4 linked regions of the Homo sapiens genome follow. The protein of the gene in region 1 purifies or fractionates together with the protein of each later gene. This does not show direct contact. Each region holds a gene or a part of one and is shown in the gene's direction. Other genes may lie near its edges.

Region 1 (7,000 bases):
TGGGACGGCCCCACCCTGGGATCTGGGGCTGATGGGCTCAGGCAGAACAGAATTGCTCGAGAGTCAGAAGCTGAGGCAAGCGCCCCCCTATGACCTGCCAGGTCGCCAGGTCAGCTGAGACAGTGGAGCTGAGTCCCAGGGCCTGGCCAGGCTGGCTCTCCCATGCAGCAGCCTACGTCCCTAGAAGGGCAGATGACAGGGAGGCCAACCTGAGGCCCTGGCCCGGCCTCCCTGACCTGCCGCATAGCTCTTGCCGGTGGAGACAGGCCCAGGCTGGCATAGGCTCTGCCTGAGGTCACAGACACCTCACACAGCCAGAGCCAGGCCCCAGCTTGTGGCATGTGGTCCAGGGCCTGCTCCTCCTGGCTGTGGGGGCTGCTCCCCGGCCCCAGTGAGGAGGGGGCATGTGGGTCACCAGGAGGCCATGCTGCCTGCCCGCCCCACGCGGCTCTCAGGAGGCCGTGCCCGTGGACAGGAGCCGGGGGAATCCCAGAAGCAGAGCCGGGAGGATGTGGAGCCCCATCCCTGTCACCCCCTGCTCACACCCGGGGCTGCTGCCTTGGTGAACTGCTGGCCAGGGCCCCCAGGGGAGGGCCGCGGGACCTGGGAAGCCGGGTGTCTGAGATGGGTGCCCACCGGTCACCTCATCCCCCTAGTGTGCAGCTCAGCCTGGGACATCAAATGAGCCAGCCCTGAGGAGGCGGCTCCTGGGCGCCCCGAGTTCCACCCAGCAGTGAAGGAGGCAGGCAGGGGGGTACACCATGCCTGTCCGCATCTGCAGAGAGACGGGCAGGCAGGGGGTCGGGGTGGGCACTAGCAGGGCAGCCGGCCTGGAACCAGGCAACAGCTCATGGGCCCTCAGCCGGGTTTCTCATGAGAGCAGGAGGAGGTGGCTGTGCCAGGGCCAGGGTGTGGGACTGGCTGGGCGGCTTCTCAGCCTCCCCACAGCTCTGGGCACCTGGACGCAGTGAACAATGGTCAGAGGGCCCCGTCGCCTGGATCTGGGCAGACAGGTCTGTCCTGCAATGGGCTTGGTCAGTGTCCCGCCCCCGCCAGAAAAATCAGGCCCAGCCGGCCCTGCCGCCTCCTGTGACCGGGCGCAGAGGCTGTGACACCAGCACCGGGTGAGGCCTCGATCAGCCGGCGAGCCCTGTGAGCAGGTGGCAGAGCGGTCAACCTCCCGACTGCCCCTCCCTGGGGACCAGGCCCTGCTCCTGACATCCCCAGACCAGTACACTTGGTCCACGGTTCCCGAGCTGGCGCATCTGGCTCAGCCGGGACAGCTGTGGGCTGAGGAGATCAGCAGGCCTCCCTGTCCAGTGCCCAGCTGGCCCTGTGAGAAAACCCCACCTTTTTCCACAGAGGATCTGCCTCTGGCGGAAGACAGAGCTTTGGAGGTCCCTCAGTCTGTGTCCGGGGCCCAAGCCCTGAGCCTGCCCGAAGCCAGAGCCCTCCCAGAAGCCTGGCTCTGCTGGCTCCAGCCAAAACGGTCCTGCTGACATCTAGCCACAGTGCCTCCTGCTGTCTGCACAGCCATTCCCACCGTCAGCCCAGGGAGGGGCCCGAGGCTTCATCCTGTGCTGGGGGCTGGACGCAAATCAAGCAGGGGCTGGGGCCTCAGTTTCCCTGCCTGTAGCATGAGCGAGTTGGATGAGGGGATTCCCGGTCCCTTCCAGCTCTGCGCATGCCCAGGCACCAAAGTCTTCACCCTTCAAACGGGCCCCCAGCCATCGTCACTTCATAGTTGTCCGTGACGGTGATCCCGACACAGCCAGAGGGCGACATCCACACGCGCTGAGCCGACTGCCTGGGGCTCTGCAGGCCGGGTGGGAGGCCGGCAGGAGTACCTGTGGCTGCAGTGGGAATGCAGCTGGATGGAAGTTGGGGACCGCCTTCCAGCACCCCTGCCTGGCCAAAGGGAGACCTTAGCCCACAGGGTCACCGCCTCAGCAGGACAGCCCCCACCCCGCAAGCCCTGTGCCCCGAGCATGGACAGGGCACAGCTCTAGGCTCTGGCAGCTCCTGCAGAGGGAGGACCAGCAGCAAACACAGACAGGTGGACAGGGAGTCACACACACAGTGAGGAGGGTGATGGGACAGCGGGGATGGTCTCTCCAGAGGTGACGCCTGAGGCTGCAGGACAGAGTCACCCGGGAGCAGGGTCGGTTGGTCCAGAAGGTCCCTGCCTGGGGAGCAGGCAGGCTCCAGGAGGGCCCAGCCAGGGTGTGCATGCTGTGGCTCTGGGCCCGGGCCCGGGTGGGCGCTGATGGGGAGGTTAGGCAAGGCGGGCCTGAGAGCTGGGCACGACTTCCTGAGCTTGTTCCCCACCTGGGAGCCTCCCTGGAGGGACAGTGTCAGTGGAGGAGTTGGGAAAAGCAGGCAGGGTGTCCCAGGGAAGGATGGGCCTCAGCCCGGGCCCCTCACGGACCCCTCAAGGATGCTGGACGCGTTGATGCGCCTCTCGTTCCCATCTCTAAAAGGGGAACAGGCCGGACGTGGTGGCTCAAACCTGTAATCCCAGCACTTTGGGAGGCTGAGGCGGGCAGATCACCTGAGGTCAGGAGTTCAAGCCCAGCCTGGCCAACGTGGTGAAACCCCGTCTTTACTAAAAATACAAAAATTAGCTAGGTGTGGTGGTGGGCGCCTGTAATCCCAGCTACTCGGGAGGCTGAGGCAGGAGAATCACTTGAACCCAGGAGGCGGAGGTTGCAGTGAGCCGAGATCGCGCCATTGTACTCCAGCCTGGCGACAGAGCGAGGCTCCGTCTCAAAAAATAAATTAATTAAAAATAAAAGGGGAACAGTGGCTCCAGTCATTCCAGCCTCAACCCCTTGAGCCCTGTTGCTCAGGGCTGTGGGAGGGTAGGAGATATGAAGGACAAGGAGTGTGTGGATCCGTTGCGGGCATGGAGCGGGACTTGGTAATGGTGGCCCCAGCGGCATGAGCCCAAGCGTAACCAGAACAGGACAAGAGGTGGGCTGAGGGCCCACATCCCTCTCCCAGGAGCCGGGGTGAGTGAGTTTTTTCTCCACAGGGGCCTCTGCATGGGGGTGACAGGGACCCTCAGGGCCCCGCAACCCCTTGCCAGACCCCAAAGGGTCCAGGGACTGGGCTGTCACTCCCCCTCTCCTGCCTTGATCCACAAAAACCAGAAATATTTCCTTTTTTTTTTTTTTTTTTTTTTGGACACAGAGTCTCCCTCTGTCCCCAGGCTGGAGTGCAGTGGTGTGATCTCAGCTTACTGCAACCTCCGCCTTCTGAGTTCAAGCGATTCTCCTGTCTCAGCCTCTTGAGTATCTGGAATTACAGGTGCACGCTGCCACACCTAGCTAATTTTTGCGTATTTCGTAGAGACGGCGTTTCACCATGTTGGCCAGGCTGGTCTCGAACTCCTGACCTCAAGTGATCCACCCACCTTGGCCTCCCAAAGTGTGGGGATGACAGGCGTGAGCCACCACGCCCGGCCCAGAAAACAAATGTTTTCAACTCATCTCTTGGGGCGTGGATTTTTTTTTTAATTCAGATGAAATTCACATAACATCAATTTACCCAGGTTTAAGTGAACGATTCGGTGGCGGTAAGTATATCCACAGTGCTGTGTGCCTGCCGCCTCTACCTCATTTCAGGACTCCTGTCACCCCCCAGAGAAACCCTGTACCATTAGCTCTCCACCCCTCCTCCTGCAGCCCGGCCCTCCTTGGCCTGCCGCAGACCTCTCCCACGTGTCCCCACCAGGTGGCAGCTGCCTGGCCGTCTGGCATAGGCAGGTGAGGGCGCCAGGCGGCCAGCAGGTTCCTGGGAGCCAGCTGCCACCCAGCAAACAACCGGGAGGATAGGGTGTCAGCCGTGGGAGGGGACAGGAGGGGACGGGCCTGCAGCCTGGGGCCCAGGTGGGCCACTGGGGACGTGAGGCACTGGCCGCCCCGCCCCAGCCTGGCACAGCCCTTCAGATCCTGGCCTTGCCGCACCCACAGTGGGGCCTCCAGTTGGGGCCACGTGGCCATGAGAATGACCAGCTAGGCTTCCCTGGAGGCCAGGCCTCCCTGGACTGGGCCAGGTGCTTCCTGCCAGCAAAGGTAGAGCTGGGCCCTGTGACCGCAGACCAGAGGGAGAGGAGGAGGCTGGACTGGGCTGCGAGTGTGGGAGAGGGTGGACTCAGGGCCCCAGCAGGTTAGTGGGAGATGGAACAGGCACCCAGGGCTGCCAAGAACCCCAGCAAAGCCGGGCTCCCAGGTGGGTGGACAGGTCCCAGAGCCAGTGAGGGCCGGCTCCTCCCATGAGGGTGGCTGCACACCCCCTCCTGCCGGGGCAGGCAGTGCTGGTCTGCGCCCGCTCCCCAGCCCTCCCGGGCAGGCAGGGCGGCAGGGGTTCCCCCTCTTCTGCCCCACTGGAAGACGGTCTTTGTCCCCTAAGAAGCAGGCTCCCTGCAAGCCTGAGACTCGGAGTTGGAAGCTGGTTTTACAAGGGGGAATTGAGGTGGGACCCTCAGGTCGCAGGTGGTTGATGGGTGAGCTTCGATGGCTGAGCTCGGAGCAGGGAGGGAGCCGGGCCTGGCGCTGGTGTCCGTGTGGGGGGTGCGGCCTGGTGGGTGGCTCAGCCTCAGCTCCCGTCTCACTGTCTCCTCCCTCCCCCGCTGCTTCCTGCTGCCGGGAGCCAGTACCTTTGCCCTCACTCCTCCCGGTGTGTGTCCTCCCTCCCTCTGCAGATGAGTAATGTCTCAGGGATCCTGGAGACAGCCGGCGTCCCCCTGGTGTCAGCGAACTGGCCGCAGCCCAGCCCCCCACCGGCTGTGCCAGCTGGGCCGCAGATGGACCACATGGGGAACAGCTCCCAGGGGGCCCCCTGGCTCTTCCTCACCTCCGCACTGGCCCGAGGCGTCTCGGGGATCTTCGTGTGGACTGCCCTGGTGCTCACCTGCCACCAGGTAAGCCCTTCCGCCCCCGAGCCTCCTTCAGGACCTTGGTCTCCACAGGACGTGGCCGTGGCTCAGCCCGGTCCCCCTGGGTGCCGCTGCTATAGACGCTGTCAGAAGTGGGATCGGCCAGGGCACGGGGGAGGGGATGAGCTTCCCCAGGATGTGGCATGTGGGAGCTGGGCCTGAAAATGGGGAGATCTCTGCCAGGCTGAGGGCAGAGCGCCCACCGGGCACCCCTGGCTATTTCACAGGCTCGTCACTCGGCTCACTGAGGTCTGCAGTGTGGTCCCATTTCACAGACAAGAAGACTGAGTCTCAGAGAGACCAGAGGTCTTTCCCAGGCTCACATAGCTGGAAAGGGGAAGGGGCCTTCTCCTTCCAGAGGCGTGACACCCTGGAGAAGGCTGGTGGGAGGTTGGCAGGGGGTTGGACTTTGCTCTGTAGGGAGCTGGGGAGCAAAGGTCACAGCTTGTTAGAGGGACCGGGACTCCTGTGCAGGAGATGGGCGAGAAGCAACTTCCCCAAGCCCGAAGCCACACACAGCCCCCGACCCGGAGCAGTCCCCAGGTGGGAACAGAACAGCCCCCAGGTAGAGAAGCGGCCAGGCGCTGTGGCAAGGAAGGGCCAGGCAGGGGCAAGGAGGAAGTGGTGCCCGAGGGCAGGGGCTGGGCAGAGAGGGCAGGGAGTCAGGGACAGGACCCTCCTGAGAGACTCAGATACACAGAGAGGCCAGGGCGGTGTGCGCAGGGGTGGGGTGGGAGTGCGTGTGTAGGCCCGCGAGGGCCACACGGCTGCAGGGATTTGTCCAGAGCCCTTGACCCCAGTGCGGTGAGGTGGCTTTCAGGGGGTGCTGGGAGCCCAGGAAGGCTGTGGAGGGCTGGGCTGAGGGCAGAGCTGCTTCCCGGGTGCACGGGGCACTGGTGTAGGGAATGGATCTGTAGGTGAGCTGGGGCAGGGGGCCATCAGGAGACTGGCAGGCAGGGACACCGGTGGCCACAAGTCTCCGAGGGAGCATCTCAGTGACAGTTTATTAACTGCTTATTAGCCGGGCATGGGGGCCTGCACTGTTAGTCCCAGCTACTTGGGAGGCTGAGATGGGAGGATCGCTTGAGCCCAGTTCAAGGTTGCAGTGAGCTGTGAACAGATAACCAGAACCCACGGTAGACGTGTATGAGTGTGGCCTGGAGTGTGCAGAGCCGCGGAGGCAGTGCCGAGGCAGGCCCTTCCTGTAAGGCCATCAGAGAGGGCTTCCCGGAGGAGGCCGTCTTTCCGCTGTAATCCTGGGAACCGGCTGTGTGTGCGCGGCTGTAGTGTGGCTTTAGCTTCATGGGGCCTCGCAGTCAAGACAGGGCTCATGGAGACCCCTTGGGCTGGAGTTCAGGCCCTGTCCCACCCCTGAGCCCACCGCCAGAGTCACCCTTGAGTGAGGAGTCCCAGGCAGGACACAGAGTGGCTGGATCCCCCTCACTTTATACATGGGAGGACCGAGGCCGGAGAGGACAGTGGCTTGTCAAGGTCACCCAGCCAGGCAGCGCCAGCCCCGGGAGAGGTCTCCTGATGGCTGGTCATGCCGTCCCTCCCAGGGACCATCGGGGAGCGTGTGACTGATAAGAGTCTGTTCCTGCCTCCAACCTCCCCCAACTCCCTGAGCTGCACCCCAAGCGGCCAGGTGCACGTAGCCTCTGCTCGCCCACCGCCACGCATGCACCTCCTCCAGAAGGCCTTCCCCAGGAGCCCCTGTGCGCCCAGCTCCCAGGCTCGGCTGACCCTGTCTCAAAGACCCTGTAGTTGAGTTGTATCCTCACAGAAAACATGGAAAATCGGTCAGGCGTGGTGTCTCACACCTGTAATCCCAGCATTGTGGGAGGCCAAGGCGGGTGGATCACCCGAGGTCAAGAGTTTGAGACCAGCCTGGCCAACATGGGGAAACTCTGTCTCTACTAAAAATACAAAAATTAGCCGGGCATGGTGGTGCGCGCCTATAATCCCAGCTACTCAGGAGGCTGAGGCAGGAGAATCACTTGAACCCGGGAGGCGGAGGTTGCAGTGAGTTGAGATTGCGCCACTGCACCCCAGCCTGGGCAA
Region 2 (7,026 bases), on another chromosome or scaffold:
TGTATTGCTGGGATCTTTTTTTTTATTTATTTATTTTTATTTATTTATTTTTTTTGAGACTGAGTCTCCCTCTGTCGCCCAGGCTGGAGTGCAGTGGTGCGATCTCAGCTCACTGCAAGCTCCGCCTCCCGGGTTCACGCCATTCTCCTGCCTCAGCCTCCCAAGTAGCTGGGACTACAGGCGCCTGCCACCACATCCGGCTATTTTTTTTTTTTTTTTGTATTTTTCAGTAGAGACAGGGTTTCACCGTGTTAGCCAGGATGGTCTCGATCTCCTGACCTTGTGATCCGCCCGCCTTGGCCTCCCAAAGTGCTGGAATTACAGGCATGAGCCACCGCGCCCGGCCTGTATTGCTGTGATCTTAAAGCCTGGCCTATAGTAGGTGCTTGATAAGTATTTGTTGAATTGAGTTCAATAAATACCATGAAAATTAATTTCAGGTTTATGACTTTGATGTTCTTAATTTAGACTGTAGCTTTATAAGCTTTATAATCATACTAAAGATGTTTTACATTTTTCCGTAGGTTACAGTGTACAGCATGTATGTTTCTATAATGGCTTTCAATGCAAAGGTTAGTGATCCACTTATTGGAGGAACATACATGACCCTTTTAAATACCGTGTCCAATCTGGGAGGAAACTGGCCTTCTACAGTAGCTCTTTGGCTTGTAGATCCCCTCACAGTAAAAGAGTGTGTAGGAGCATCAAACCAGAATTGTCGAACACCTGATGCTGTTGAGGTAAGTATGTTTTAATTTTAGATAACATTAAGCTAATACTAAGATATTAATATCTTTGTTTTGTCTCTAGAAGTACTATATCTTTTTTAAAAATCATATCTGTCCATAGGTTCTGGTTTAGAAATCTACATATATATTTTCTTTCACATCAAGGCTGAGGGTTATAATCATTCAAATCAGCAAGACTAGTTCCCTTAAAGGCGTTTCTCAGTAAAGGAGAGGCGATCTCTCTTTCCCCCACCTTGACGATCACTGTCCTACACAGCAGGCACTATATAAATGCATAATTAATAGCTTAAGTTTTGTAGTGATAGAAAAAGGGAATGTCCATTGGCTATTCCTATAACAGTGATAACTAAACCTGTATAGTGAGTGGTTTGTTGATAAATTCTTTCAAAGTGGTATTTGTCTACTTCTAGAGTAGATGGACTGGAAATTTCTTCACATTTCCGAATGTGAAAGCTGCATCGTGAAAATAGATAATCGGGCCAGGTGCAGTGGCTCACGCCTGTATTCTTAGCACTTTGGGAGGCTAAGGCGGGTGGATTGCCTGAGCTCAGGAGTTTGACACCAGCCTGGGCAACACGGTGAAACCCCATCTCTACTAAAATACAAAAAATTAGCCGGGCGGGGTGGTGTGTGCCTGTAGTCCCAACTACTCAGGAGGCTGAGACAGGAGAATTGCTAGAACTGGGAGGCGGAGGTTGCAGTGAGCTGAGATCGCGCCCCTGTACTCCAGCCTGGGCGACAGAACAAGACTCCGTCTCTTAAAAAAAAAAAAAAAAAAAAAACATATTCGGCTGGGTATGGTGGCTCACACCCGTAATTCCAGCATTTTGAGAGGCTGAAGCAGGCAGATTGCTTGAGCCCAGGAGTTCAAGACCACCCTGGGCCACATGGTGAAGCACCATCTCTACAAAAAATGTAGAAATTAATGGGGCATGGTGGTGCACGCCTGTGGTCTTATCTACTCACAAGGCTGAGGTGGGAGGATTGCTTGAGCCCAGGAGCCAGAGACCGCAGTGAGCCATTATCACACCACTGCATTTCAGCCGGGGCCACAAGTGAGACCGTGTCTCAAAAAAGAAAATGAGTATTGTTTACAGCAAGAACTGAAAATTGTTTTTAATCCTGTTAGTAGCATTAGAGAGATTAAGATACATTAACATATTTTGTCATTGGAATTCAGTGAAATACTGAAATGTTTTAAGAAAAATATATTTTTATTCTTTATAAAGTAGAAGCATGTTAATTGCTAAATACTTTCATTTTGAAATTGTGGAGTATTTATTATAGTTTTATTTTTACAGCTTTGCAAAAAACTGGGTGGCTCATGTGTTACAGCCCTGGATGGTTATTATGTGGAGTCCATTATTTGTGTTTTCATTGGATTTGGTTGGTGGTTCTTTCTTGGTCCAAAATTTAAAAAGTTACAGGATGAAGGATCATCTTCGTGGAAATGCAAAAGGAACAATTAATATATATGCTACTGGACATTCTAGCAAGGTAATTGTAGTTTAGTTTTAATTCGGAGAGCAATGATAATCAGTGCACAGGAGTATAAAATATTATTTTAAACAGCGAAATTAATAATATAAAATGCCAAATGGTTGAAAAAATAGAAACCTTTCTGTATATTTGATCATATTTTTTTTTTGCCTTGTCAATGTATTTAAAGTTTACTTAAGGTCAGGAAATTCTAAAACAACTTTTCTGGCCTTGTTATTTGATGTATATCTTTTAAATTTACTGACCAAAGCATGTTTTAAGCTGCAATGCAGTAGTCACGGGTGGTAACCATGTAGTCAGGTATTGTTATTAGTACCTATCACTGCTGAGCTGTATTTAAAATTTTGGTACAATATATAAAATGGAGAAGAGCTTGATATTCAGGTACTAACCACAACTAGTCTGACATTGTTGGCAGTTAAAATCTTATTTTGAATTGTAAATTAGTTAAATTTTATGTGGAATTTGCTGAGAAAAGAATATAGACTACTGAAATGTCATTTTAGTTATTTTTCTTATGACCACATTGTACAAATGAATCTGTGTTAAAAAGACTATTTTAAATGTATTTCCTGCTTTTGTAAGCATTAAAGATTTATAAGAAAATTATTCAAACTATTTTTTATAAAATGAAAGTTATGATTTTTAAACTTATTGATTCCTCTTGCCCCTACCCCCTCTTTTTGGAAGATATTTTGATTCCTTATAAACTTTTACCCTAAGCTTATATATGTTTTCTGTCACAAGTGCTTCCTGGCACACAGACAGCCAATGGAGGGGATCAAATTCAGTGTTGTATGTATGTTTATGGCAACATTTTGAAAATAAAAATTAAATGTTTTTCTTCAAGTAGTTTTTTTTTAATTGCTGAGAGAAAAAAACAGTAAAGCTTTCTGATTAAGTAAAATTTAAATGGGCAGTACCATAATTTAAAAAACTAATACTTTAAAGAGAGAGACAAAGATATTTTGTGCCTTTGACAAATTAAATCTAATAGTGGAAAAATGTTTCTTAATTAAGCACTTTACTAGTGAAAAAGATCTCACAATTTATGCCAAATCAGGTACTGTATTTTCATGTATTAACACATAACCTTTTGTTTGAATACTATAGTTTTCAGTGGACAGTTGCTATTCCAAGAAAATTAAGCTTTTGAGTACTTTAGCAATTCCCAGCGTATTACATACACCCAGTGATAAGGTTCTTTGCATGTTTTGTGTTATGTATTACTCTGACTCTTTAGAGATTATATAAATCCTCCAAAAGTTAGACGAAACAAGATAGTACATTATGAGTCTTAATTTTATCATTGTGGAAAAATGTGTACTAACTCCTGATTTTGTTAATTTTATAACATAGGTTGAATTTTAGAGTGGGGTTTTTATAAGTAATGGAGGATAAAATGGGTGGGAGAAAATGGCACACAGCACCTGAAGAAAGATGGGGCAGTGACCTCTAGAACTCATGCATTGCCATTGGAAAGCCTGTGTTGGGCATCGATGTCAGATCCTGAAGAATCACCTGGAAAAAATCCCATCCTAGAGGCAAGGAGGCTACACCAAACCATACACTACAGTACTTTGTCACATGGTTGTCCATTATCATGTATTAGAGTCTAAATGATTACTTGAATAAAGAAAAAAAACCACTTAACTCTTACATATGAAATGTGTTTTGATTTTTAATTTTTGGATTAAGAAACTCAGATTGCCATAATAACCTTTTATTTCTTCCCGTGTATATTATTACAAATTATATATACTTTCAAACATAGTTTTTTTTTTTTTTAATTGAGACAGAGTCTCACTTTGTCACCCAGGCTGGAGTACAGTGGTGCAATCTCGGCTCACTGCAACCTCTGCCTCCTGGGTTCAAGTGATTCTCCTGCCCCAGTCCTCTGAGTAGCTGGGACTACAGGCGCACACCACCACACCCGGCTAATTTTTGTATTTTTAGTAGAGATGGGGTTTCACCATGTTGGCCAGGCTGGTCTTGAACTCCTGACCTCAAGTGATCCACCCGCCTCGGCCTCCCAAAGTGCTGGGATTACAGGCATGAGCCACTGCGCCCAGCCTTCAAACATAGTTTTAATGTCAGTACATCTTTAATGACTTGAAGTTTTAAAACATTTTAAGCCTTTAAGGTGAAAGCCATTTAATTAATTTGCTCTAGAAATAAGCACAAAAAATTATAGTTAATTTGAATACATGTATGTAATGCATGTCAAAATAACTTGTTAATAGCTATGTGCAACTGTGTTGCATACATTGATCACTAATGGCATTTAAAAATGATCTGCCTAAATCTGAGGATCTGTTTATTATAAATCAGTAGTACTAAAATATACCACCCTGTTTTTATGTTGTGGGTGTTTTTCTTGATTGATTGATCCTGATAAATTAAACAGTACCTTCAAGTATGGACTTTTAACTCCTCCAGTTAATGCATCATATGTTTACTGGCTAATATTAGATTGAACATTTTTCTCTCTATGTCAGTATCTCCATATGCACATTGGTTGCCGCATATATACATCTGAGTTTGAAAAGTTCTTCTGAGATTACCTAAAAGTAACACCACAGATTCCTTCCATTGTAAATACTTTATTTTATTTTATTATTATTTTTTAGAGACATGGTCTCACTTTTGCCCAAGCTGGAGTACAGTGATGCAATCATAGCTCACTGCAGCCTCAAATTCCTAGGCTCAAGGGATCTTCCTTAGGCTGGATGCTGTGGCTCACACCTGTAATCACAACACTTTAGGAGGCCAAGGCAGGAGGATCACTTGAGGTCAAGAGTTCAAGACCAACCTGGTCAATATAATAAGAACCTGTCTTTATGACTTCTTTTTTTTTTTTAATTATCCAGGCATGGTGGTACACACCAGTAGTCCCAGCTACTTGGGAAGCTTAGGCGGGAGGGTTACTTGAACCCAGGAGGTCAAGGCTTCAGTAAGCAGTGATTGTGGTACTACATTCCTGTCTGGGTGACAGAGTGAGACCCTGTCTCAACAACAAAAAAGGATCTTTCCACCTCAGCCTCTCTGGTAGCTAGGACTACAGGCACACAGCACTATGCCCAGCTAATAAAAAATAATAATTTTTTATAGAGGTGGGGTCCGCTATATTTTCCAGGCTAGTCCCAATCTCATAGCTTCAAGCAGTCGTCCAGCCTTGACCTCTCAAAATGCTGGGATTACAGGTGTAAGCCACCGTGCCCTGCCCATGATAAATATTTTAATTTTGCCTGATAAGTCATAAAAAGTTTATTCAACACCTTAAATAGATTTCTCAATTTTTTAAAAATATTAAACCTTTGAAATCGAAAGTAATTTTTGGATTTCACCCCTTTATTGCAAGGTTTTTGATGTCTGTGGGAAAAACCCCTGAATTGCTTGTGAAACTCTGGATATGTAATTTTTTTTCTTTTTCTGAACAGAGTAAAATCTTGGATGGGCCATGATCCAAAAATCATGGTTTTGAAAGTAGACCGTACTATAAGCCATAATCACAAATCTGAGGTAATAGTTGTGAAAGTGTTTAAAACATCCTGAAAACAATGTTGAAAAAAAAAATCTATGATAAAAACTATAAAATCTCTGCATATGTTATACTGTATTGAACTTGAAACTTTGAAGGAATTAGAGTAGATAAGACATTAATGGTAGAAGAGAAACCACAGGGGTGAATTATATCCTACAAAAGAGAAATCTTCATGATTTAACCTTTTTTTTCTGAGTGACTTTTATTTTGCCTTATTAACAGAAACCTGAGAAAGTATGTTGCTTTGTATTAAATGGTTGAGACCATTATTTGATATAAAAGCTGAAAATTTAATTTTTGTATTTTGGAGAATTCTGTGGTTCCAAGTAATTGAAAGAATGACTAAAGCTGTATGTCATAGACCCTGCTAAAATGAAATAACTTGTTGGGAACATTCCATGCAGATTTCCAAAATGTATTTTACCTTATTATTAGAGAAAGAAAATAAACTTTTAAAATAATCTGATAACTAGCATTCATATATTTAATAAGTATTTTGGTTACAGAAGGGAAGGTGATACTGTACATTGTAACTGCTGAGACTTTTTTTTAACCAATGTCTTTGGTAGATAGCGAGGCACAATTATTTTCTCTTAGGGAGGATTTTGAATACCTATTGCAGGCTGGGCATGGTGGCTCACGCCTGTAATCCCAACCCTTTGGGAGGCCGAGGTGGGTGGATCACTTGAGGTCAGGAGTTTGAGACCAGCCTGGCCAACATGGTGAAACGCCGTCTCTACTAAAAATACAAAAATTAGCCAGGCATAGGGTGGCACACGACTGTAATCCCAGCTACTAGGGAGGCTGAGGCAGGAGAATTGCTTGAGCCCGGGAGGCGGAGCTTGCAGTGAGTTGAGATTGCGCCACTACACTTCAGCCTGGGCGACAGAGCGAGACTCCGTTTCAAAAACAAACAAACAAAAACAAAACAAAAACACCTACTGCAGACCATGTTCTTTTTACTTTATTTTATTTTATTATTTTTTTGAGATGGAGTCTGGCTCTGTTGCCCAAGCTGCTCACTGCAACCTCCGCCTCCCGGGTTCAAGCGATTCTCCTGCCTCAGCCTTCCAAGTAGCTGGGACTACAGATGTGCACTACTACGCCCAGCTTATTTTTGTATTTTTGGTCGAGATGGGGTTTTGCCATGTTGGCCAGGCTGATCTCAAACTCCTGACCTTAGGTGATCTTCCCGCCTTGGCCTCCTAAAGTGCTGGGATTACAGGCGTGAGC
Region 3 (7,026 bases), on another chromosome or scaffold:
ATGAGTGTAGAATGTTAGGGAACTGAAAGAAGACCAGAGTGGCTGGAGTATTGGGAGTGAGTAGTAAGGGATGTAGTGGAAAAAGTGGTAAGGGGCCTTGAAGACTTTGATAAAGGTGTTTGTTTTAATCCAGGAGAAATAGGCAGCCATGGGAGGGTTTTAAGCAGTGGATGCAAGACTCTGGTAAGGATTTGTGTTTTTAAAAGATCACTTTGGCTATTGTGTGGAGAACAGTTCAGAGGGAAAATCAATAAGATGTGGTCACTGATGGGGATTAAGGGGATGGTGCGAGAAGGTGTCAAGGCTGTATACGTGCACCCTTTATTGAGGTAGGTGATGCTGGAGGAAGATTGTGGGACTGGCGCGGGGAGGTTATGAGTTTAACTTGAGACCTAGCTAGTTTGAGATACTAAGAGATATTTCTGTTTACAGGAGCATGATGCTTTTTCTTTTAAGTCTAGAACTTTTTTGTAAAGTAGAACTGGAGAGAATTTTAGTGCTTGCATTTTTATCCCAACATAATTAAAGGAAACTTTAGAACAGATACATAAATTATAAAACTAGAGGGTCACAGTTGTTTAAGATCTTAAACACCCAAAGGAGTGTGCTGGTAATTACTTGTATGTATGCTATTTTCTTTATTTTATTATTATTATTATTTTTACTTGAGATGGAGTCTTGCTCTGTTGCCCAGGCTGCAGTGCAGTGGCATTAGCTCACTGCAACCTCTGCCTCTCGGGTTCAAGCGATTCTCCTGCCTCAGCCTCACCAGTAGCTGGGATTACAGGCATGCGCCACCATGCCCGGCTGATTTTTGGAATTTTAGTAGAGACGGGGTTTCACTGTGTTGGCCAGGCTGGTCTTGAACTCCTGACCTCAGGTGATCTGCCTGTCTTGGCCTCCCAAAGTGCTGAGATTACAGGTGTGAGCCACCGCGCCTAGCCTTATATGCTATTTTCAGTTGTTACCCGTAGATAATTTTTAAATACTGATGGTTAAGAAAAGGGTAAATGCAAATGATTTTATTAGGTATAAACCTGTTCATTTAGTAGGACTTGTGATTATTGCATCAATATTTAAACATCTTGAATATTAGATAATTGACTAAGGTTGGGACATGATTTAAATGGTAATAATTTTGCTATAATAGGCCATAGGTTATGTATTTTTTTTTCCTGTGCTGATTTGGAAATAAATTTTTTTGAAATTTTTACCTATTTTGGAGATTCTTCAAAAGTAGATCAGTGGTAAGAAAATTTAGGTAACATTGAGTACTTCTAATATACAAAACATTGTGTCATCAAATACTTTACTGACTTCTATAGAAATGAGACATGAAGGTTTTGAAAAATACCCAAGTTAGCACAGTTCATAGCAAGTCTTTTGTGATATTGATTGCAGTGTATAGTACTTAGTTTAATAATGTTTGTAATGTATATTCAAGCTCCAGAGAGAAATGGTTTGTGTGATCTACGGCAAAAAGGTTATATTTATCTTTTTCATTTGAATCACCATTATCTCTTTTTGTTACATTTAATTACAGGACTGTTCCCTGATGTGGGTGGAGGTTATTTCTTGCCACGACTCCAAGGAAAACTTGGTTACTTCCTTGCATTAACAGGATTCAGACTAAAAGGAAGAGATGTGTACAGAGCAGGAATTGCTACACACTTTGTAGATTCTGAAAAGGTACTTTTTCAGATGTTTGCATTTTGTATTGTTGGAATAACAACACAAAATAGTGCATGGGAAGGTACAATGGGTGGTTGAGAGCCACAGACTTCTGGTGAAATCGTGGTGTGAATCCTGGACCTATTAGTTTATAGCTGTGTTACCTTGGAGAAAGTGCATAAGCTCTCTAATTCTGTTTCCTCATATGCAAACTGGAGATAATGATACCTGGATTCAGGGTTGGCACCTTCAGTGAGTATTTTTAAGTGAACAATTAGAGTCTCTTAAAAAAAAAATCATGCCTACCTTAAGAAAGTCTAATATGTACAAATCTAAATTTATATATAAAAAGATAGCCTTTTATTTTATGAGGACATTTTGAAGGCTTCTTTTGGTTATGAGTTTCCCTAGCGCATTGAAAGTAATTGCATTTGACTTTTCTAAAACACATCTGTTACAAGGAACACGTTACTTATCTTTGCTTTTTTTTTTTTAAAAAAAAAACAATGTGGCCAATTTTCTCAGCACAGGATAACATAGTGGAAAAGAATATATAGATAGTTTGAGTTTAAGTCTTAATTGGAACTTAGCCTCTTTTGCCCCCCATTTTCCCGTCTGCAGAATGGAGATGACACTATTACATAGTAGTTGAAACTCCTTGTGTTACATGTGGCAGAAGACCCAATTCAAGGTAGTTTTGCCTCAGAATTCCCAGCAAGAGACTTAGGATGTATTTTGCTTCACCTGGTTTGGTTCACTCTGACTGGACTGGCTTATCTTATTCCTGAACCGTATGAGTAGGTAGAATATACCAACTGGCCTATCCTAGGTAATGCACACTCTGTCCTTCAATCTGTGGGGTAAAGTCAGCTTTCAAGGAAGCACATGGTCATCAGATGAATAGCTGATCAGATCTTAAGGGAAGGGTGTTTTAGGATACGGCAAGGAAAGCTATAAAAATTAAATTAGAAAATTTATGTTACATGCTTAGCCCAGTAACTGACAAATAGTAAACACTCAAAATTTAACTATTATTAATAATTTTAATGCAGTTTTATATTTTTAGAGGTTGCCGGATTTTTCATTGAGAGTCTCTTGTATGTTACAAAGGATGGCCCTTTTTATCCTCATATCTGTAACATTCTTCTGTTTTGGGTAAGGATGCCAGAGATTATACTGACAGTTAGACTATCATGTGAGTCCCCCAAGGACTTTTTACAAATGATGATGATTTATTCTCACACGTCCTCTTTGGCCATTGAAGTAAAACAGCTGGATAGCATAAAAATGTACTGTTTGGTCACTAATAGAATTCTCTTCATAAACTTTATAAATTGGCTGTGGAAATTTTTATGTTGATGAGCTTTGGTCTTGTTTCTCACACTGTTACAGATTCTGTAAAATGTATGAAGCATACAAAATTGAAGATTGTCTCTGTAAACTGTTATGAAGGCCTTTCTATCATGTTTGGCCAAAGATTCAGATCTTTCTCTGTGTTGTGGGCATCCTCAGTCACATTGAGTAGTCTCATGCTTCCCTTGAGCTATAACAGGAAGGAAACATGGGCATGTGATTATCCTGTCTGGAAGGGACACCCTTGATTACAGTGGAATTTAGGATACGAGAGAGCTGATGCATAACCCCTTTCTTTGTCAATGTGTTCAATGCTAGTATCTGCAATGAGTAGACAGACATTCTCAGGGCTGTAGAGGATATGAAAAAGAGGAATATACTTTGGGGATGCGATTAGAAGTGGGTACAAAAGATAAATAACCATCTCTCTCATCTGGCAGAGGTAAAGTATGGTAAGTGTAAAAACAATACAAAGAAAATACTCAAAGAATTGAAAGGAGGAAGAGCTTACCTGTAAGAAAGGACTAGAAGCTTTTTTATGAAGGTTGCAGTACAGCCGGCCTTAAGGTGAGTATTATCAGGAAAAGGTATTGTCAGGTAAAGGAAACATTTAATGAAATCACAGGGGCAAGAAAGCATTAGCTATGCTCTGGGAACAGTAAAAAGTCCTGTTTGGCTCAGTGTAGGGTAGATTAAGTGAGGGATTAGATGGATAAATAAGTGAAGCTATATTATAGTGTTGTGCATTGTCTGTGGTAGCCACTAATAATTTGTGGCAATTTTGGTTAAAATTAATTAAAAATAAAATAAAATTTATATGTAGGTCTTTGGTTCCAAGTACTCAATAGGCTGAGAAACAAAAGTCTCTATTTCTCCTTCTTAATTTCTTCCATCTTTATCCATTCCTTTGAAGGCTACATTTGCTGTGTGGGAATACCTGTTCATTCAACTTAAGTCAAAATTTCTTTCAGTGATTCACCTGAAGAGACAGCTTCATAATTTAAAGTCAAGAATTCTAAAAAAGAAGATGAGATTTTTATAAAGCTTTCTATGTTTCTATTGGATCTAAGATCTTTCCTTTTTTTCTGCCTCCCCTTTAGTTGGCCATGTTAGAGGAAGATTTGTTAGCCTTGAAATCTCCTTCAAAAGAAAATATTGCATCTGTCTTAGAAAATTACCATACAGAGGTAATCTTGTTAATATTCTAACCTCAGGTTTTAATTCATGGGGAGGGGAAGTGATTAAAAAACTGGCAGTTGGTGAATATTATAGTTTGTAAATATAAATAAATGTACTAAGGATTTATTTACTTTAAAGCGTGGCAGAAGAATCAGTGCTTCACAGTTGTTAGTATAGCCAGCTAATAAGATGACTTCTTTCCTGTGCAGCTGCATAGCTGTCTTCCCACTGCTGGTTAACTTCAGTGCATAGCCTTGTGATCATTCTTTGCAAGGGTTTTGGCATTTCTGTAAACGGTGTTCAATGTTAACACTATTTGTGGAGATGCAAACTCTTGACATTTATTTATATTTAATAAAGTTTATTGCAGCATGTATTTTTAATTCCTTACTTATGTTGTCTGACTTGAATTTTCTTATAAGAGCCAAGAATCTTTAAAAACACTCCATAACTTCTAGTTAAACATGATTGAATACATGCTGCCTCCTAAAACACCATTCAAAATTGTAATAAGTGAATAAGAAAAGGCATAAACCCACAAAGACAAGTAGAACGGAAGAGGAGACAGTGGCAGACATGAGATGTTAGTATTTTGGAAGCTTGAAATCAGCAGGATGAGTGCTGCTAACTTAAACCAAAGAACTCTGAAAGCCAATAAGAAGTCAGCTGATTGTTGCTGTAGACCCTTCTAAAGGGACTAGGTCCCTCTGAAGACTAGGGTGTAGAATGGGGCAGAAAAACAGGAGGATTTATTATAAGTTTTTTTTTTGTTTTTTTTTTTTGTTTTGAAGCAGAGTCTCGCTCTGTCACCTAGGCTGGAGGGCGGTGGCGCAATCTTGGCTCACGGCAACCTCTGCCTTCCAGGTTCAAGCGATTCTCGTGCCTCAGCCTCCCGAGTAGCTGGGATTACAGGCGTGTGCTACCATGCCCAGCTAATTTTTGTGTTTTAGTAGAGACAGGGTTTCACCATGTTGGCCAGGCTGGTTTTGAACTTGTGACCTCAAATGATCCACCCTCCTCAGCTTCCCAAAGTACTGAGATTATAGCCATGAGCACTGCACCTGGCCCTTCCACAAGTCTTCTTGTACAACTGAGAGTAGCTATCTTCCAGTAGCCTGGCAGAAGAGTAGATACTTACTCCTTAGAGAAACCAAATCAGGCAGGTCTAGCTGACAGTAGAGACTGATGAAGTACTGTACTGATGAGAGGTGAGATATACTAAGTTGGAAGACCTCTGTCCCTTTTCCCTAGTTGGCTTGCAGAACCGCTGCATCCCACCCCACTCCTAAGCAATACATTGGAAGAAAAAAAAACCCATAGACGTTGAAATTCATGGACCCCTTAATAACACATCTTGCCTGATCATCTTATAATGTAACACAATTGAGAATCCCATAACTTGCAACTGACATTAGACGCAAAGCTTCCTAATTTTAGTGCTTTGCATAGAAAAACAAATATTCCTAGGCCAAAACAAACAACAAAGGCACTGGAAGGAAACAGTTAATGCAAGAAGAAGGAAACTTAGACAAATACCAATCTATAACTGTTAACTTAAGAGGAAAATATTTTACCTCTTAAACAACAACAGATGTTATAAAGGTAATTCAAAGAATAATATAGGCATGCCTCAGAGAATCTGAATTTGGTTCCACACCATGGCAATAAAGCTAGTCACATGAATGTTTTGGTTTTCCAGTGCTCATAAAAACTTTTACACTATACTGTAGTCTATTAAGTGTGCAGGAGCATCATTTCTAAGCACAAGTACGTATCTTATTAATTTATAGTTATAAAATAATTTAGCTAAAAATACTAATGATCATCTGAGCTTTCGGTGAGTCATAATTGTTTTGCTGCTGGAGGGCCTTGCCTAGATGTTGATGGCTACTGGCTGACCTTGGTAGTGGTTATGCCTGTAAAATTTTAAAGATGATAACAAAAGTTGGGAATAAAAAACCCAGAACAGATTAAAATCTGTGGTTGAGGAAAACTCTAACAGAAAAGGATAATTAAATAGAAAAGGGAGAGAATGGAAAACTAGAGGTATTATTCCAAGAGGTCCAAAATCTAATCATTAGGAATTCATAGTAAAGAAGATAGAGGGAAGGAAATATTTGGAGAAATAGTACCAAATAAATTACCCAGAACTGAAGAACATGAGTACAGATTGGCAGGGCCACCAAGTACTTGGTGGAGAGAATATGAATACAGAGCACATGAGGATTTCACTTGTTTTTATCAGAGCATTTGATAGTCTCCTGTTGTCGAATTGAGTAAATATGTGATGAATTATGCTTTGCGGTGGTTGAAGGGGCTTATCAAAGAGTTCTACTAAATGTATAGGAGTTAGTTTGTAGGGAAGTCATCTTAGACTTATTCAGCATTTTTCTCAAGTGATTTGGTGACCACTGATAGCGTTTTGATCAAGTTGATTTAGAACTAAGAAAAACAAGTTAAATTAGGAAAAAGAATATGGATGAAAAAACAACCCTTAGAGTTTAGAGTGATCTGCTCAATAGTAATAATGTGAAATTTAATAAAGATAAGTGCGAATCTTGTGTTTTAACCCAAAGTGCTAAATTCATAAGTACAGAATAGGAGAAACACAGCCTACAATGGCACAGGTTTAAAAAAAAAAAAAAGTCTTATTTAATTGGAGCTTAGTGTGAATCAGCTGCAATCATAGGCCTGTCTCAACACTAACTCAGAGTTAGTCCAATTAAGAAAAGTATATCCAAAGCAATCAAGGGCCTGCAGAACCCTCTTATACTTTGCTACCATCCAGCCACACCTGCAGCTAAGATACGTGTCCCGTACTTG
Region 4 (6,922 bases), on another chromosome or scaffold:
TTCTGGAGGCTGGGAACTCCAAGGTCAAGGGGCCTGCATCTGGCAAGGGCTTTTGTGCTGCATCATCCCAAGGTGGAAGGTGGAAGGACAAGAGAGCAAGAGAGGGCCGAACTCAATGTTATAACAAGTCCACTGTCTCGATCACTAACTCACTCCCAAGATAACAACATGAATCCAGTCATGAGAGCAGAGCCCTCATGACCTAATCACCTCTTATTAGGCCCCAGCTCCCAACACTGTTGCATTGGGATTAGATTTCCAACACATGAAATTTGGGGGACACACTCAAACCATAGCAGACAGTTTAAAAAATGTTTAATGCCAACTCTTAAAATGAGTTATGGTAAGCTGCAGCTACGGAAGAGCATATGAGCAGAGCTACCAGGAAATCAAACCTGCCATGGCTCAGAAGTCTGAAATGGGCCGGGGGCAGTGGCTCACGCCTGAAATCCCAGCACTTTGGGAGGCCAAGGCGGGTGGATCACAAGGTCAGGAGTTCGAGACCAGCCTGGCCAACATGGTGAAACGCCGTCTCTACTAAAAATACAAAAAATTACCTGGGCGTGGTGGTGTGCGCCTGTAATCCCACCACTTTGGGAGGCCAAGGAGGGCGGACCATGAGGTGAGGAGTTCGAGACCAGCCTGACCAACATGGTGAAACCCCATCTCTATTAAAAATACAAAAACTTAGCCGGGCATGGTGGCATGTGCCTGTAATTGCAGCTACTCAGGAGGCTGAGGCAGGAGAATCGCTTGAACATGGGAGATGGAGGTTGCAGTGAGCCCAGATTGCACCACTGCACTCTAGCCTGGGCAACAGGGTGAGGCTCCATCTCAAAAATAAAAAAATTATATAAAAAAAAGAAGTCTGAAATATTTGAGACCTACTGTAAGGACTTACTATAACAGCATTTAAAGTACTGGTTCTTAGCCTGAGGTTCAGAAGGCTGTGAGTAAAATACAAACATGTATACGCTATGTGAAATGTCGTTATGTGCTAATCAATACTTTTCTGGAGATTTAGTTCAAAGTTTTCATCAAATTCTCAAACAGGTCCAATGACTCCCAAAAGGTTAAGAAATACTGGTTTTACTAGAGGGTAATGATTTTCCTTTTTATCATTTCATTCCTCTGCTTCCCCAAAAATCCATGGCTTGGCTAGGACAAAGTTGTCTCCGAAGATGCTTGTAAGGGAATAACCTTTATTAGTTCATTCAACAAGGCAGTGGAAGAAGAAGCAGACAATGATGACATCTGCTTCCCAGTAGAGCCGGGAGAATAAAACGGCTCAAGTCCAATAAAGCGCTGAACACAGCACCTGACATGGCAGCCAGCTCTCAACACATATTTGCTACCAATGATAATAAACCTCACAAAAGTTCTAGCTGCGTATAGTCTGAGGCACAGAGTAGCCTAGAGACCAATATTCTAAAAGAGGAAACCAATGAGGAAGAGAAAAAAGTCCAGCTGCCTGAGCTAGAACACCAGCACAGCCGGTACTGCTGGGTTTTATCAGCAGCATTTGGGGAAGCAGTTAAGTCAGACGGGCCTCATCGGAGACAGCCCCTCATCTTATACTCCTTTTACTCAGCAGCTATGAGACTCTGAACAAAGACAACTTGCACATCTGAGTCTTGGGGTTTTCATTTGTAAAACAAGAGGGATTATACCTTCTAACTCTTAAGGTTATTGTGAGCCCAAAGTGAAAAAATGCCTACAAATCTCTCAGTGCACGCATGGTCATGGCTTAATAAAGAGCCGCTATTTTTGTTTTTTCTTCCCCAAATGAGAAAAGAACACTGGTTTGAGTCTTTCTAAAGATGCTGGTGTTTCTGCTCTTCTGTATTTGACTTTCTTTCCTTTGCTGTGAGAAAGAACTAATCCTAGCACTCATTCCCGGGTCTCTCACTGCCTATGTGACCTTGAAGGAGTCATTTGATCTTTCCACGCTTCTGTTTCCTCACCAGTAAATGGAATTCTAATAGTACTAACCAGTTTTAGTATCTGCCAAAACTAGGCTTTTCACCCCTTTCTCAATGAATCTGTACTTTCTTTTGGTTTACTGAGGAAATGTACTCATATATTGAGTGTGCCAAAGACTCTTCTAGGCACTGATGATACAATGTGGAATAAAAGTCCTGGCCGGGCTTGGTGGCTCACGGCTGTAATCCCAGCACTTTGGGAGGCCGAGGCAGGTGGATCACCTGAGATCAGGAGTTTGAGACCAGCCTGGCCATCACGGTGAAGCCCCGTCTCTACTAAAAATACAAAAATTAGCCCAGCATGGTGGCGGGCGCCTGTAATCTCAGCGACTGGGGAGGCTGAAGCAGGAGAATCGCTTTGATCCTGGGAGGTTGAGGTTGCAGTGAGCCGAGATCACATCACTGCACTCCAGTCTGGGCAACAGATCGAGACTCTGTCTAAAACAAAACAAAACAAAATGAAGTCCCTACCCTCATAGAGCTTACAGTTATTGTGGTTAGCATAGAAATAAATCATAAATCAATCAGAGACCAACTAATTAAAGGGATTATTTTTTAAAATTCTCATTAATCACAGTAACAAGTACCCCAAGCTTACATATAGCCCTTGAAGTTTCCACATCCACGTATTTTCTGGGCAACTCTTCCCAAGTAAAAAATATTTTCAGCGTTTTTATGTTTCACGTAGGTCAATAGGGTAATATCCAATCATAAAGATCTGCCTTCTTGGCAATGGAGAAATTTTCCCATCATATATATGTACAAATACATACATACATACATACATACATATTAATGACAGAGTCTTGCTCTGTTGCCTAGGCTGGAGTGCAGTGGCATAATCATAAGCTCACTGCAACCTTGAATTCCTGGGCTCAGGCAATCCTTCCTACCCCCTCAGCCTCCGGAGCCGCTAGGACTACAAAAGCTTACCACAACGCCTGGCTAATTTTTCTTTTTCTTTCAAGATGGTGTCTCACCATGTTGTCCAGGCTGACCTGGAACTCCTGGGCTCAGGTGCTCCTCCCGTCTCGGCCTCCCAAAGTGCTGGGATTATAGGCACTTTCCCATAATATTTATAATAATTAAAGGAACAAACAGAGAGATAGACAATCGCCTAAGAGCAGACAGACAATCATGAATTTTTAGCAAGGGATTTGTGTTCTTATAGATAAAATACAGCCTGACTCTTGGAACGGGCATGGCAACATCAGTGTATATTTTATAAGAACTATTATATCGTCTATTAATGATACTTGATTGTTAATAAAATTTTTTTAGCCTGGGCTTCAGGAAACTGTGAATGAAATACACACACGCACAAACTGTATGCAAAATTTCACACACATGCCATCTACAATATGCATGGCAACACCAGAAAGTTCCAGGCCTTAAGGGAGGGTCTTACTTCCTAGAATCTGTTGTAACATCACTTCACAAGATTTGTTGTGAGTGCTTGAGTCACAGTTGGCGCTCAAGAAAGATGCGTTCTCCTTTTAAACACAAAAATGTCCATTGATACAGCAGATTCCGTTCATAGGCATCCTTAATCGCAGAAACAGGAGGGCGGCCCTTTTCCTCAAGGCGCTCTCAGTCCAGGGATGTGCCCGCTCCGCAGCCACACAAGCTGGCGTGGGATAGGGTCAAAGAGCGGTGGATGCGCACGGGCCGCCCACGCCCTCGCTGCCCTCCCGGAGCGTGGGCGAGTGATTCCGATTGTGCAGCAGAAACCCAGGGTCTCACGGGAACGAGGAAACCCGCCCACGCCCAGCCTCCAAGCGACGCTCTCCATGACAACCGGCACTTGGTAACGGCCTCGCCCTGCCCCGCTACGCCGCGCCTAGCGTGCCGCCCCGCCCCGCCCCGCTACGCCACGACCAGCGTGCTGCGTCACGGCGGTGCGCCGGAAGTGGCTGCGGATTTCGCCGGAAATCCCGGAAGTGACAGCTTTGGGGGTTTGCTGCTGGCTCTGACTCCCGTCCTGCGATGGGTTGCGACGGGGGAACAATCCCCAAGAGGCATGAACTGGTGAAGGGGCCGAAGAAGGTTGAGAAGGTCAGTGATGTGGGCCGGCTCTTGGCGACCGGGGGTGGTGGGAATTTGACGACCCCAGAAAACGAGAGGAAGTAAGAAGGGGGAGCCAGCGGAGTTCCAGACCTGGCTGCGGTCTTTTATTCCATTCAGAGGACTCAAAATTAACAACAGTATTAAGAGTGGACATTCAATGGGTGCTGACTATTGCCATTCACTGGACAGTAATCTTAACAGGGGGTATCTCATGTAATTATCACAATAGCCCTATAGCTACATACTGTTGTCCTCATTTTCAGACATGGAAGTTGAGGCTCAAAAGGAGAAATTTGCAAAGCTAGTAAATGGCAGAGCCAGGATTTGAACCCTACCTGCGACTAGTAGCAATAATACAAATACCTAGTGTATACTGAGTTTTGTATACACTAACTTCATTTGCTCAGAGAAGCCTTCCCAAACTGTTCCCTTACCACATCCTTTTATAAACTGTCTTAGCCTGCACACGGCTGTACGTGGTTGATTTGTATCAAGTCTTCCCCGCTAGACGGTAAGTTCCTGATAGCAGAGGCTGTACCCTTTTTTTCTCTGCAACTAGCATGGTTCCTGGCACACTAAATATTTCGAATAAACAAATGAGTGAATAATCCCTGATCTCACAAGTAATCGAGGAAATTATAATAATTTCTTTGCTACTGACGGGGACATTGAGTCCAGGGATATTAAGGTGACTAAGATCACACAGCTGGTAGGTAGTGAAGCCAGGATTCCCATCCACTTATTTGGGATTTCAAAGTTAGCACAAGTAATTACTTTTTAATGATAAAATATTTGTAAAGCACCTAGTAGAGACTTCTTTACAAAAATATTTGTAAAGCACACGTGGAGACTTCATGTATTCTGATTCAGGAGCTGGAGAGCTTGTTTAAAAGGTAAACCCCTTAAGTCACTATTGTATTTGAAGCATTCCAGTGGCTTCCCATCACATTAAGAATAAAATCTCGTCAGACCCTTGAGCAGACCTTGCCTATGTTTCTGACCTCATCTTCTGCCCCTCTCCACCTCTTTCATACTGTTCTAGCTAAACAGGCCTCTTGTTCTTCAACCTGGAGTGTGAGTTCATCAATCTGAAATACTCTTCACTGAGATTGTCACATGATGAGTTTCTTTACTTCATTCAGTTTTTTACTCAAATGTCATCTGTCCACTGTAACTGAAATGTGCCTCACTTCCAATATTCTCTCTTCTCTTCTTAACAGTGCCTACCACTGTGTTGTTTATTGTCTCTTTCCCACGTAGACAGGAACCTTGTGTGTCTTACCTCTGTAACCCCTACCATGTGTCAGCCACATAATAGACACCTAATAAGTATGTGTGAATATGGGAATGAATGAATACCCAAGAGGATGAAGTGTACCCTCTGATCATACGTACATGTAAACAGGCGAATGCTGGATAATTAGCATTCATGAGTGGTTTTTTGGCTTTCACCAAAAAAGTGTTTAGCTCAGTTTTGTTTTCTTGTGCCCAGGGCTGAAAAGGAGTAGCTTAATGAAAGGCTTGACAAGAAACAGGTGTCGGAAGAGGGTAGAAAAGAAGGAAGAGCGATTCAAAAAAGCCAGAATGCCTAGGCAGGATGGATTTTTATTATAACTATTCACACAACAAATGCTTAATAAGTGGTTACCATATATACATTGTTGTAGGCCCCAGGGATATAGCAGTGAACAAGGCAGAGTCTAGCCCTGGTGGAGCTTACATTTCGGATCAATATTGTGAAATCTGCCCTGGTTCCTAACGCAGAGCACCTAAATTCCTTGTAATTTCCTGGGTGACGGGATCATCTTTTGTTCTAATAAGGCAATTATTGGTGGGCTCCTGGATGGGGCCTGGTCACCAGAAACACCAAGCCAAGATTAGAAGCCTGGAACTTTCAGCCCCACCTCACCCCCATCCTTCAGGGAGGAGAAGAGGAATTGGACATGGAGTTAATAATCCATCATGCCTACGTGGTGGGGTCTCCATAAAGATCCCTGAAGTTGAGGGTTTGGAGATTTTCTGGGTTGCCGACAACATCCACATGCCAGGAGAGTTACCCCAACTCCATGAGGACAGCCCTGCACTTGGGACCCTTCCAGATTACTTCTTTATCTGGCTATTTATTTGTATCCTTTAAAATGTATTTGTAATAAATCAGCAATGGTAACTAAACTCTTTCCCCATATCTGTGAGACACTAGCAAATCATCAAACTGGGCGGGGGGATCGTGGTAGCCTTTGATTTATAGACAGTCAGAAGTGCAGGTGACAACTTGAACTTGTGATTGGCATCTAAAGTCGGGGTAGGGACAGTATTATGGGACTGAGCCCTTAACCTTTGGGATCTGAGGCCATATCCAAATAGGTGGTATCAGAATTGAGTTTAATTGTAAGACACCTGGCTGCTATCAGAGAATTGGTTGGTGTGGGGAAAATCCCATACATTTTGTCCGAAGTGTTCTGGAAGTATTGAGTGTTGTGAGTGAAAGTATAGAAAAAACACTTGTCTGGCCAGGCGCGGTGGCTCACGCCTGTAATCCCAGCACTTTGGGAGGCTGAAGCAGGCGGATCATGAGGTCAGGAGATCGAGACCATCCTGGCTAACACAGTGAAACCCTGTCTCCACTAAAAATACAAAAAAGTTGCCGGGCATGGTGGCAGGTGCCTGTAGTCCCAGCTACTCGGGAGGCTGAGGCAGGAGAATGGCGTGAACCCAGGAGGCAGAGCTTGCAGTGAGCCAAGATAGCGCCACTGCACTCCAGCCTGGGCGACAGAGCAAGACTCCGTCTCAAAAAAAAACAAAACAAAACAAAACCACTTGTACTTGTCTTTCCAGTACAGATATGTAAAAACTTAAAAGAAGAAAGACCCTAG

Evidence for each region.
Region 2: the proteins of TMEM184A (region 1) and SLC33A1 purify together in Homo sapiens (co-immunoprecipitation; 2 studies listed by BioGRID and IntAct, with this or other methods). This does not show direct contact.
Region 3: the proteins of TMEM184A (region 1) and HIBCH purify together in Homo sapiens (affinity purification with mass spectrometry; 2 studies listed by BioGRID and IntAct, with this or other methods). This does not show direct contact.
Region 4: the proteins of TMEM184A (region 1) and RTF2 purify together in Homo sapiens (affinity purification with mass spectrometry; 2 studies listed by BioGRID and IntAct, with this or other methods). This does not show direct contact.

The regions. Positions count from the first base shown.
Region 1 is NC_000007.14:1,553,190-1,560,189, reverse strand, and holds the start of TMEM184A (transmembrane protein 184A), read left to right. Parts: upstream 1-3,984; 5' UTR 3,985-4,076; intron 4,077-4,705; coding exon 4,706-4,924; intron 4,925-7,000. UniProt on the Homo sapiens protein: Acts as a heparin receptor in vascular cells. May be involved in vesicle transport in exocrine cells and Sertoli cells.
Region 2 is NC_000003.12:155,823,402-155,830,427, reverse strand, and holds part of SLC33A1 (acetyl-coenzyme A transporter 1), read left to right. Parts: intron 1-524; coding exon 525-740; intron 741-2,050; coding exon 2,051-2,218; 3' UTR 2,219-7,026. UniProt on the Homo sapiens protein: Acetyl-CoA transporter that mediates active acetyl-CoA import through the endoplasmic reticulum (ER) membrane into the ER lumen where specific ER-based acetyl-CoA:lysine acetyltransferases are responsible for the acetylation of ER-based protein substrates, such as BACE1.
Region 3 is NC_000002.12:190,246,825-190,253,850, reverse strand, and holds part of HIBCH (3-hydroxyisobutyryl-CoA hydrolase, mitochondrial isoform 1 precursor), read left to right. Parts: intron 1-1,543; coding exon 1,544-1,689; intron 1,690-4,124; coding exon 4,125-4,211; intron 4,212-7,026. UniProt on the Homo sapiens protein: Hydrolyzes 3-hydroxyisobutyryl-CoA (HIBYL-CoA), a saline catabolite. Has high activity toward isobutyryl-CoA. Could be an isobutyryl-CoA dehydrogenase that functions in valine catabolism. Also hydrolyzes 3-hydroxypropanoyl-CoA.
Region 4 is NC_000020.11:56,464,730-56,471,651, forward strand, and holds the start of RTF2 (replication termination factor 2), read left to right. Parts: upstream 1-3,897; 5' UTR 3,898-3,968; coding exon 3,969-4,037; intron 4,038-5,896; exon of another isoform or gene 5,897-6,212; intron 6,213-6,884; exon of another isoform or gene 6,885-6,922. UniProt on the Homo sapiens protein: Replication termination factor which is a component of the elongating replisome. Required for ATR pathway signaling upon DNA damage and has a positive activity during DNA replication.